Linked DNA regions of Homo sapiens: all the other regions are linked to region 1. The links come from fine-mapping of genetic effects on gene expression. A gene starts in region 1. Each other region holds a variant in brackets. All regions are shown on one strand. Distances are from middle to middle.

Region 1 (4,000 bases):
CACTCCAGCCTGGGTGACAGAGCGAGACTCCATCTCAAAAAAAAAAAAAAAAAAAAAAAAAAAAAAGGCTGCGATAAACGTAATTTTTCGTTTCAAATGTAGTGTGTACACGTTATTTTAGCTAAGAGAAATGAATATAATAAGTTAAAATGTGAGTAACATTCAAGAAAACTGGGTCAAAAATATTTTCCTTATTGGCAAAAAATTTTGTTACCCGCCATTCTTTTAAGACAGCTTTCAGCCAGTTAACGGTTCCTGGTTAAGAAACAGTACTGTCTGATTTGTTAGAGTAGTACCGTTTCGTGAATTACTTTCCACTACAGCAACACATGCATTGCCCTTATGAGATGCTTATCTCGATATGAACCAAACTGCTGAGCAGGTGGAATCTGTGCCAAACTAGCTGATGTTTACTTTGAACACACTGATATTCGGAAAATAAATCCCTCTTTTTTCCTCTTTAATCTTTTAATGTTTGTCTTGCACATGGATGGACCGCCAGTGAAGTGATGCGCACATCATAAATCACCATGGTTTTTAATTCCTGGGTGATGAGACCCATAATTCGCTTGTCAGCTGTTTGTATAGAATCATTTTTAAATGGCATGTTTTGGAGACATCTTGATAAAATAAAAACTGGAGTTCTAAAGTTGCAGTCACATATTCACGAACCGAGAACTCTACATGGTAGGATGAATTTTGCTCACTAGTGTGGAGTCGGCAACAAAGCAAATGCAGCCGCGTCACTGCCGTTTGTTTTCTCAAGTCTCCTACGGGAAGGGGCTCGGACAGTGCTTTTCCACTCCTCTGCAAATTCCTTATAGTTGAACACATCATAACAAACATACAGGTCGAGAAATCTGGTCGTGGCATTAATAGCTACAGTGTTTCTTAAAAATAAAAAGTTTTAAAAAGTTTCTGAAAAAAATGTAGGCGAGCCAACCTTGTTTCTAAACAATCCCAACAGGACTTTTAGGAGCACGGCGATGCTGAATGCCCGTGGACGGCTGGGTGCGCGCCGTTAGCTGGCGCGGTGACATCTGCTTAGAGTTTTCAAGCATTTCAGCATCGCTAGGAGCCCTACAGCCTGACGGTCCGGGACAGCCCGGCTTCCTCCACCCGAGGGGGAAAACAACCCCAGGAAAACAACTTAAACTCGGCCTTGGACTGTCCATCAAGGGAAGCCAAACGAGGCGCTGCTCTCCAGACCTCCAGGAGCAAAGGAGGAAGATCAATTATTCCAAAAGTTTCTCACAAATTTCCCGAGCTCCCCACAACTTTTTGAAGAATCCTGAAAGAATCCTAGGGGGCTGGGAGCCGCACACGTGCCGGGGCTCGGCTTCCCAGCTCGGCAGTCTCAGCCCGCTGGGCTCGCCCGGCAGCTCCGCTGCGCCGCCGACCCGCCCGTCCCCGCCCCGCGCTGCCCTCGGCCCCTGTGCCTGGCCTCCGGGGCGCCCGGCCCGCCTTACCCCGCTCTGCCGCGGCGGCGACCCGGGTGCGTTCCTCCGGAGCAGGGCTCCCGGCCGCTCTGAAAAGAATTCCTTTCACACGTGCGGTGCTGCTTCACGCGTGCGCCCCGCGCCAGGGCCCGACCTCCCCGCCCTGATCGCCATCCCTGCAGCCCCAGTGTGCGCTGCGCCCGACGCCCCCAAGCTGCAGCTCAGGACGCCGCGCCACGCCCCCGCCGCCTCCGAACAGCCCCGCCCCGCGCGCTTCCCAGCACGCACACCTACCGCCCCCGCATCCCTACCCTGTACGCGCAGCCACAGCACTCGCCCGCGTCCGCATTCCACACCCTACCCCGCGCGCACGTCCATGCCTAGCGCCTGCATCCCCATCCCGCACCTGCGCGGGCCCTGGGGATGTGGACGCGGGGGCTCTTCCCTGCCGCCTACGCACTCCGGGGCATGCCCGCGCGGGACGTGAGAGGAGAGCCGAGGGCTGTTGGGGCGGGCCCGACCCGCTTGCGGGGCGCCCACCGCACGCAGATGCGCCAGCCCGCGCCCCGCTCGCGCCTGTCCTGGGCTTCGCAGGCCCGGCGAGGTAGCTGCTCTCCGGGCGCTCCCACGGTCGGAGGCGCGTGGGCGTCGGGCACCTAGGTCTCGCCCGCCTGCAGCCGCCTGGGGACGCGGGTTCCGGACGGCTGGCGCGGGGCGGGGCGGGGACCACCGAGCAGGAAGTCCCCGCGGAAGCGCCGCCGGGCACAGCGTGGGTGCTGTCGAGGAGTGGCGCCCGGGCGGGGCGGGAGGTTATAAATAGCGGCCGCCATCCTGCTTCTCTTCAGACACACTTAATTTAGCCGGCAGGCACACGGATGCTTATTTTTAAAAAAAGAACTTGTTTTATTGCGCTCGAGGTGACCGGGAAGGTGTCCCCGCGGGTCACTCGCTCCATCTGGTCCTGGAGACGAGATGCCAGGGCGAGGCCTAACCTGCCTGCTGGCGCCCAACGAAGATTTTAACGTTTTCTGTTCCCTTCGGGGTGGTTTTACCACGCTTGAGAGGGACGCCTACCGCGGAAGGCCGCGGACCGAGGGCGGCATCGCGTCCTTGTCTGCTGTCTGGGCACAGCCTAGAGAGGCCGCGGGTCCCCTCCCCGTCCCCCAAGGTCTGGAGTGGGGTTTGACCAGCCTGGGATATTAACAAATATCGGTGGACTGCATTTCGGTGATCATTCCACAAGCTGAAATGGCTTCAAAATCACCTTTATGAGTAATAAGTTTATTCCAGGAATGTGGCAAAATGCAAGTCTGATAGTTTTCGTGTCTTCATGGAGCAGCTTCCGTCGGCTGCCTTCGTTAGCGTTTAGATCTACTCGGATTAGCAGTTGGCTTGCCCTGAAAAATGCGTTTGTTCTGCTGAGATCTGAATTTAAAGTTATCCCAAGGAGGAAAAACTAAGCTCCTAAAGGCGCATCTAAAATATCTTCTCCCTTTGGGAACTTTGCGGTGTATGTATGGAGTAGGTAGTAGTTACGGAGACTTAGTTTTTAATTTTTAATTGAAAAATGCTACCTTTGAAGGTCTTAAAATACTTGAATATTTTTCTCATTTAAAACATTTTCTCTGAGAAGCACAGGAATAGTTTTTTTTTTTTTGTTGATCACAAAAGCACTAGGAATTGTTAATATTTGTAGTCTGTTTGCCAAATGCTATTATTGGTATTCTGAGGATAAAAATGGAAATATAATATTGTAATAATTTTAAAATTTTTATTAAAATATAGATTTTAAATTATATTATGTAATTCGAACAAATATTTTACATATATGTTCATACAAGCATTATTTACTATAGCCAAAAGGTGTCCATCAATGGATGAATGGATAAACAAAATGTATTGCATACCTACAGTGGAATATTATTCAGCCTTAAAAAGGGAGAGCCCCATCACATGCTACAACGTGGACGAACCTTGAGTACATTATGCTAAATGAAATAAGCCAGTCACAAAAGTCACAAATACTGTATGATTCCATTTACATGAGGTACCTACAGCAGTCAAAATCATAGAGACGGAAAGTAGAAGTGTGGTTACCAGCAGCTGGGGCAGTGGGAAACGGGAAGATAGAGTTTCATAGGTACGGAGTTTTAGTTTGGGAAGATAGAAATAGTTTTGGAAGCAGATGATGGTAATGGTTGCATAACAATGTGAATGTACTTAATGCCACAGAACTGTACACATTAAGAAAGGTTAAATGGTAAATTAAAGGTTATGTATATTTTACTACCATAAAACAATTTTTAAAGTGGTATTGTGTAAAGACCAGCACAACTAAGAAGCTAGCAGTTTCTTTACACTTGTCATACTGTACAATTTCTAGGTAGACAACTAAGATGTTCATCTTATGGTTTAATGTTTAGTTGTAAAGGTTGTTTGCTTCTCATTTGGTTCCAAGAAAGAGTATTTAGGCCAATTTCAGGGAGAAATATGTGTATAGATATATTCATATGTCAAACTGATTAGTGCTGAATGTCACATTTCCATATTCTAATAACATT
Region 2 (4,000 bases), 35 kb before region 1:
TTGGGAGGCTGAGGCAGGTGGATCACCCGAGGTCAAGAGTTTGAGGCCAGCCTGGCCAAAATGGTGAAATCCTGTTTCTACTAAAATACAAAAAATTAGCCAGGTGTGGTGGTGAGTGCCTGTAATCTGAGCTACTCAGGAGGCTGAGGCAGGAGAATTGCTTGAACCTGGGAGGCAGAGGTTGCAGTGAGCTGAGATTGCGCCACTGCACTGCAGCCTGGGCAACAGTGTGAGACTCCATCTCAAAAAAAAAAAAAAAAAAAAAAAAAAAAAAAAAAAAAAAGAAATAAAAAACAAACCTGTGCTTTTAAACCTCTTACCTTCTATGTTTTACAGTCATTCACTCATTTGTTCATTCATCCATTCATTTGTTACTTCAACACATATTTATTGAACACCTACTGTTCACCAGGCACACAGTAGGCTACAATTGCTCTGATGTTGTAAGATAATGCACTTATTTTCTATATGAAGGATAGTGATATATGCATATTTTCAAAGAGATTTTTGTTTCATTTATCACATGGTAGCCAGTACAGTTGCCAGAGAAAGTAACTGAAGACAAACAATTCTGCCGTTGTTAGGAATTTATTGTCAGTCACAGAGCATGTGATCTGGCTAAATATAGACTTCAGAATTTCTAAGAAACAATACATGTAAGATAATTCATTAACTCCCTACTACTCGTTTTCTTTATCTCTTTGGGTAGTCCAGTTAATAGTAAAGTGTTATTGAAAATAAAAATTTACAGGTTTTTAGCTCTGTCCTGTTCAATATTTTTACCAATGACTTGAATAATGACAGAGAAAGTCCATGTACTTCATTTTCCAGTGACGCCAAGTTAATACAGTAAATGACTCAACTAGTTGGGCTGGCACCCAATTAACAAGATGATTCAGCGAGGACAGTGTTGGATGTTCCACTGAGGCTGGATGAAAAATGCCCATTGCAGGGGTCCCAGAATGCAGAGGCTTTTCTGGGCAGCTGTTCATGTGAGGAAATCAAATGAGATAGTGTAAGTGAGAGCAGTTTGTAAACTGTGCATTTACAAATGTTAGATATTTTATCAGTAAAAGTCCTGGGATTTCGTTGTCTACAAGCCCATAGTGAGCCCACATGGAGACAGAGGCAGCTGAGAAGGAGTGGTCCGGTGAGCAGACACAGAAGGAAAGAGAGCAACAGAAAAGCAGCCGTGGGCAAAGCCCCCAGGAAAAATGCTGTGGGCAAGAGCAACTGATGGATGCTAAAACCCAGGGGGAAATTGTGAGGAGACAGGCTTTGCATAATCTCAGAGTATTTCCCCAAGTTGTTAGCTTTATAGTAGAGAAACTGGGAAGATGCCCCGTAACCAAACAGCCAAGGTGTGCTTAACAAAGTCACTATGGTATCATGCACCCCTTGGTGTGATGCACTGAGAAGGGCACACTTCATTTCTGTGGTCATCTTGCCAAAAATGTCAGACGACCAACCACCTAAAAAGGAAGCAGTTAAGTAACTTTGGGAATTATCTA[G/A]GTTGCAGGTATATTCGTGCCTGTCTTTGCCTTGTAAATAATGGACATTATTGGCTGTCATTTTTGTTTGTTTGTTTGTTTGTTTGAGATGGAGTCTCCCTCTGCTACCCAGGCTGGAGTGCAGTGGCACGAGCTCAGCTCACTGCAACCTCTGCCTCCCAGGTTCAAGTGATTCTCCTGCCTCAGCCTCCCATGTAGCTGGGATTACAGGCACCTGCCACTACTCCCAGCTAATTTTTTTTTTTTTTTTTTGTATTTTTAGTAGAGATGGGGTTTCACCATGTTAGCCAGGCTGGTCTCAAACTCCTGACCTCACATGATCCATCCGCCTCGTCCTCCCAAAGTGCTGGGGTTACAGGCGTGAGCCACTGTGCCTGGCCCCAGGAATCTATTTTTAACAAGGCCTCCAAGTGACTCTTGGGTAAGCTAAAATTAGAGAAGCAGTAGGCTACTATGAAACGGAGCCTCTAGTTTTAGGAAGTGCTCAGCTCACACAAACGTGGGTAGCATCGTTGCTCAGCGTCATCTCTTTGGACTGCAATCCCCTCCCAGTGATCCTGGATTTCTGGATGCGGCTGTTTTCAAAGCGCAGGGTATTTTCAGCAGGATCTCACCATAGTGGGCCCCACCATGCCCAGGCTGAGAGCTCTGCCTGCTCTGTTAGTGAGGAGGTAGGGGTGCCGACCCGCCTTTCTGACCCTACCCCCTCCCTTCTCTCCTCTCACCCCCCTCCTCTACCTCTCACCACACCCAAACCTCCTTTCTTGATGGCAAGCATCGCTTCTGTACCCCTGCGGCTCCCTTGGCTCTAGTGTTAGTCACAGCTTAGTGGAGGAGCTGTGGGCTTGCATCTGAGGACCTGGGCTTCAGCTGGGGGTCTGCCATTTACCAACCGTGCTTATTAACCCACAGTCCTTCCCGGAGCCACTGCTTATGTTTTCTGCATCCTGGTGTGACCTCAAGCAAGTCTTTAGGCCACGTTTTTTCCTTCAGACCAAAGCTTTTTTTATTTTTTATTTATTTTCTTTCTTTCTTTTTTTTTTTTTTTTTTTAGACAGGGTCTCCTTCTGTTGCCCAGGCTGGAGTGCAGTGGCGCCATCATAGCTCACTGCAGCCTCCACACCCCCCACCCTCCTCACCCTCACTAGTAGTTGGGACTACCTACAGGCGTTGCATCACCATGCCCGGCTAATTTTTTTTTAAACTTGTTTTGGAGGCGGGGTCTCACTGTGTTTCTCAGGCTGATCTTGAACTTTTGCACTCAAGTGATCCTAACACTTCGGCCTCCCAAAGTGCTGGGATTATAGGCGTGAGCCATGTGCAGGACCTGGACCAAGTCTTGATTCTCTCTGGTTCCTCCCAACTGAAACATCAGGATGCCGCCCCGGGTGTCCATGGGGCTGGGGAAGTTGCTGAGCAACCTTGCCCTGCGAGAGCGAAGGCGGGCGTGTCCCTCGGGGGCGTACCCCGAGTGGGCAGCAGGGCCAGCCCGCGCGTCCCTCAGGGTCAATGCTGGGGCCCTGAGGGTGAGGTCAGCTGTGAGGTGAGGTCTGGTGGCCGAGGGGAGGTGCCCAGCGTGCGCGTCCGCATCCGGCGGGCGACAGAGCAGCCCCGGAACAGGAGCTTCCCGGCACCGGCCGTGGCGTGGCGCCCTCCGCTGGGCCGTTCTCCCCCGCAGCCGCTAAGTCAGCATCGCCTACTTTCCCACTCTCGAGTTTGCCCCTCTTTGCTGCCCGGCAGCTGGGTGTCCCATGTCCCCTGCCCGCCAGTGTGCGACCGCGGCCTCCCGCGGGGCGGTGACGGCCCCTCTCCTTCAGCCTGACCGCCGCCAGCTCCCTCGGCGTGTCCGGGGTGGCCAGGCCTTGTTTAGAGTAGCTCCAGCGTTTGAATCGCGCAGGCACAAGAAGGCCGTCTCCTCACCGCGGGCCAGCGGGGCCGGCCAGGGCCCGGGCGGAGGGGGAGCCCGGGTTCCGCGGTCGGGTTGTGGGGCCGGCGCTGACCTCACCGCATGGGCCCCTGCGGCCGCCGTGGCTTCTCACGCGGCCTGACTTTGGACTCGAGTGCAGGCTCTTAGCTGAATCTCTGTGTAGACAGGGTGGGTGGGACTCCGCCCTGGGGTGGCGCTGGGGGCTCGGGTCTCCCGCCGCAGGCCTGTCAGCGGGGCGCTTCCCGTCGATTCCAGGAGCGCCCGCGTCTCTGCTCAGCGCCACGAGTCCAAGCGTGGGGGAGGACGAGACTTTCAAGGCGGGGGGTGACAGTGCCATCCAGCCCAGAATACCCACCCCCAGTGGCGGGCTGCCGTGCCCAGGCCCTGATCCCTGCCCCTGCAAACATCACTTTCTATCGCCCACGGGGCTCTGCAGATGTGGCCAGGCTAAGGGTCCAGAGTTAGGGAGATTGTCCTGGATGATCCGGGCGGACCCTAAATGTCATCAAAGTGTCCTCGTAGGAGAGGGAGAGGAGGCGACCGTGGGGGCAGAGGCTGGAGG
Region 3 (4,030 bases), 40 kb before region 1:
ACCCCTTCCCCGCGGGGTGCCCCTCCTCCCGGTGTCGCCTCCTTTCAGGTGCCTGCCCCTCCCCCATGTGTCTCCGCCCACGTCCGCCCCACCCCCACGCGTGTCGCCCCCGCCCCGTGTCCTCCCCCGCCCCTGTGGAAGGGAGGCTGGGGCTCCCGGGACCAGCAGGGAAGCAGCTGGCAGAGAACGTTGAGTGTTCTCTCTGCCAGGGCCTTCACCACCCTTTTCGGGGCCCTCACCCCGACCCACACCGCTTCCATTCTTGGGTGCAAAGGGCCTTCCTTAACAGTCGGCGGCAGCTCTGGGGCCGGCGCATTTTTTTCTGTGGGGGACACCCGGCACAAGAAGGGTGGAGGAATGGGGCTGCGCGTCACTCCCACAGCTTCTTAGAGAGCCGTTCGCAAGGAGGACCGAGTGTCACGTGAGTGAGCTGGAGGAGGTCACGTTACCTTCCTCCTGTGAGAGGCTCAAACACAGCTCAGGATTTTACCAGTATGGAGAGAAGAAACCTTCAGGCGGGGCGCGGTGGCGCTCCTGTGGCCCCAGCTACTCTGGAGGCCGAAACAGGAGGATTGCTTGTGCCCGAGTCGAGGCTGCAGTGAAGCCGATTGTTTCACTTTACTCCAGCCTGGGCAACAGAGCAAGACCCTGCCCCGACCCCCAAACACACACACACACACACACACACACACACACACACACACACAGAGAGAGAAAGAAAAAGAAACTTTCGGGAACCGGACAGCTTTTCTGTGCACTGGAAGGCACTCACCCCCCTGGCCTGGTAGACTCCTACCCATGAATCTGATGTCAGCTCAGACGTCTTCCTCCAGCTGCCTGTAGGACGCCTAGACCAGAAAGGGCGCCTCTAGATGCCCTCCTAGTTCTCAGGCCTTTTTCTTCATAGCACGTGTCACCGTTTGTGAGAACAAGTGATTTCTATGATTGAGAACTGTCTCCCCTTCTCGTCTGTGAGCCCTGTCAGTTCGGGGTGTCTGATTCTGCTCCCATGCTCAGTACCCAGAGGCTGATACATAGTATGCACTCGATAAAAAAAGGTTTTTGAGTGAATGAATCAATGTATCTGATCCCAGCTCTGCCTTTTACTAGCTCTGTGACACACTCAGATACTTAGCGTCTCTGAGTTTTACCTTCCACATGTGCACAGTGGTGCTAAGTGTTAAATAAGATTTATGGGAGGCCATTGAATTGGGCTGAGCTCCTGCACTAGGCCCCAGTAGGCCAGACCAAAATGGAATCACTTGTGCTAAGTGCCACGTAATCAAACTGAAACTTAAACAAAACAGGAAAATCCCCCACCAGGGCCAGTTTTCCTGAAAAAATAGGAGACTACCAGCAACCAGTCAAAAGGGGGCCAGTCCACTTGAGCCTGCATAAGAGAGGTTTCCTCCGCTTAAACTCATACAAGGAAATGTGGAGGGGTCCAGGTTGTTGGCGTTTTGAGCAAAGAATTGAACAAAACGCACAAACAAAGCAAGGAAAGAAGGAAGCAACAAAAGGAGAGATTTATCGAAAATGAAAGTACGCTCCACAGGGTGGGAGCCGCTGGAGCATAGGGGCTCTTTTTACAGAATTTTCTGGGGTTTAAATACCTTCTAGAGGTTTCCCATTGGTTACCTGGTGTACACTCTATGTAAATGAAGTAGTGACCTGCAACCAGAGGCTGAGGTGAAGTTACAAAGGTTACACCCGATGCAAGCCTCTGTTTGCAAAGTGAAGTTACAAAGTTACAGTTCTATGCAAAGGAAGACTTGGCCCACAATCAAGCTGATTGGTTGTGGGAAGCGACCAATCAGA[G/A]GCTGAAGTGAAGTTACAAAGTTACAATCCTATGTAAACGTCTGATTGGCTGCCCTCAGAGACACTTTCAATTTTCCATCTGCCAGGCAGAAAAGGGTGGGGGTTTGCAAAGGGAGTAGCCTCCGGTTTTTTGTTTGTTTTTTCTTTTTTGAGACGGAGTTTCACTCTTGTCGCTCAGGCTACAGTGCAACGGCGCGATCTCCGCTCACTGCAACCTACGCCGCCCGGGTTCAAGCGATTCTCCTGCCTCAGTCTCCCGAGTAGCTGGGGTTACAGGCGCCCGCCAACACGCCAGACTAATTTTTGTATTTTTAGTGGAGACGGGGTTTCACCACGTTGGCCAGGCTGGGCTGAAACTCCTGACCTCAGGTGATCCGCCCACCTCGACCTCCCAAAGTGCTGGGATTACAGGCGTGAGCCACCATGCCCGGCTACCTCCGGTTTTTTTGTTACTTAGGTGTGAAAAGTTGGGGTTTTCCTTTTGATTTAGTTCTAGGAAGTCAGCGTGAAATCGGCCTTAGGTTCCCTGCCTCCAGACCCTATTCTCCGCCTCAGAAAGTCACCCAATGATAACCAATGCACTTTTCTCACCACACGATTTCCTCATTCCTGCTTGAGCTGCCTTACCAAAGCCGATTGTTCTGCAACACCCAGCCGAGTGCCTTCTGTTTTGTAGTCTGGAGGCTGCCTGTTTCATACATTGCTAATAAGAGTCAATTAAATCTTTAAAACTCAATTTGTCAAAATGTTGTTCTTTGGTGTCAGAGACCAATACTGTAGGGAATTTGTGTTCATTGACTGAGCTCAAGTACATAGAACAGCTGGAGGGAAGAGACGCGCAGGGCAAGGTATGAGGTGGGGGCTGCAGGTGCACCACATTCCCACAACTTGGAAACTCTTCCAACCTGCTTGTTCAAGAGCTTTTTTAGAGCTTGATTTCTAGTCCCCTCCCCTTCTCACAGGTCTAGGGGTGAGGCTGAAGGATCCAACCTCCTACTTACCTGGTCTTTCCGGTGACCAACCCCATCCTGAAGCTATCTAAGGGTTCACCCTAAGTCACCTCAGTAGCATAAACTCAGATGTGATCAATAGGTGCTTCATTATGAATAACAAAAGACACTACTATCACTCAGGAAATTCTAAGGGCTTTAGCGGCTCTGTGCTAGGAACCAGGGACAAAGACCAAATATATTTCTCTAAATGTACCCTATCATCCTAATGGGCTCAAGGTGGTATCTTATTGTGGTTTCGATTTGCCCTTTCCCCAGTGATTACTGACATTCAGCATCTTTGGTGCTTATTAGCAATTTGTATGTATTCTTTGGAGAACTGTTTATTCATGTCCTTTGCCCATTTTAAAATTGGGTTGTTTGGGTTGTGCGTGGTGGCTCCTGCCTGTAATCCCAGCATTTTAGGAGGCCGAGGTGGGCAGATCACCTGAGGTCAGGAGTTCAAGACCAGCCTGGCCAACATGGTGAAACCCCGTCTCTACTAAAATTACAAAAATTAGCAGGGCATGGTGGCAGACGCCTGTAATCCCAGCACTTTGGGAGGCTGGGGTGGGGGAATCACGAGGTCAAGAGATCGAAACCATCCTGACCAACATGGTGAAACTCCGTCTCTACTAAAAATATGAAAATTAGCTGGGCATGGTGGCACGTGCCTGTAATCCCAGCTACTCGGGAGGCTGAGGCTCGAGAATTGCTTGAACCTGGGAGGCAGAGGTTGCAGTGAGCCGAGACTGTGCCACTGCACTCCAGCCCCAGTGACAAGAGTGAAACTCAGTCTCAAAAAAGAAAAAAACCAAAAAAACAAAAATTGGGTTGTTTATTTTTTTGTCATTGAGTTTAGGAGTTTTTTGTTTTTTGTAGTTGAGGGTTTGTTGTTGTTGTTGAGTTGCTTATATAGTCTGAATATTAAACCCTTATCAGATATATGATTTACAAACATTTTCTCTCATTCTGTGGGCTGCCCTCTGTTGATAATGTCCTTCGATACACAACAGTTTTTACTTTTGATTGATTTGTCTATTTTTCTTGTTGTTTGTGCTTTTGGTGTTGTAGCCAGGAAACCACTGATGCTAAATCCAGTGTCATAAAGCTTTCCCCTTGTTTTATTCTAAGAGTTTTACAGTTTTAGCTTCTACATTTAGGCCTTTAATTTTTTTTTTTTTTTTTGAGACAGATCCTCCCTCTGTCGCCCAGGTTGGAAT

The links. PIP is the estimated chance that this variant, and not a neighbour inherited with it, causes the effect.
Region 2: its variant is the best candidate, but not a certain one, in a credible set for the expression of GJA3 in whole blood (TOPMed, PIP 0.60).
Region 3: its variant is the best candidate, but not a certain one, in a credible set for the expression of GJA3 in whole blood (TOPMed, PIP 0.71).

Annotation. Positions count from the first base shown.
Region 1 is chr13:20,159,421-20,163,420 of GRCh38, forward strand. It overlaps GJA3 (gap junction protein alpha 3), which reads right to left and starts at 1,632. Exons shown (of 2, transcript NM_021954.4): 1 at 1,470-1,632. RefSeq lists silencers at 1,363-1,452, 1,613-1,692, 1,923-2,282.
Region 2 is chr13:20,124,738-20,128,737 of GRCh38, forward strand. No RefSeq gene overlaps it. Among named protein-coding and RNA genes, the nearest start is that of LINC01072, 24 kb to the left of the region's middle. RefSeq lists an enhancer at 2,888-2,937 and a silencer at 3,388-3,607. The variant G/A (reference allele first, on the strand shown) is at 1,512.
Region 3 is chr13:20,118,909-20,122,938 of GRCh38, forward strand. LOC105370101 (a long non-coding RNA gene) reads right to left here and starts at 881. Exons shown (of 3, transcript XR_941719.3): 1 at 797-881. The variant G/A (reference allele first, on the strand shown) is at 1,819.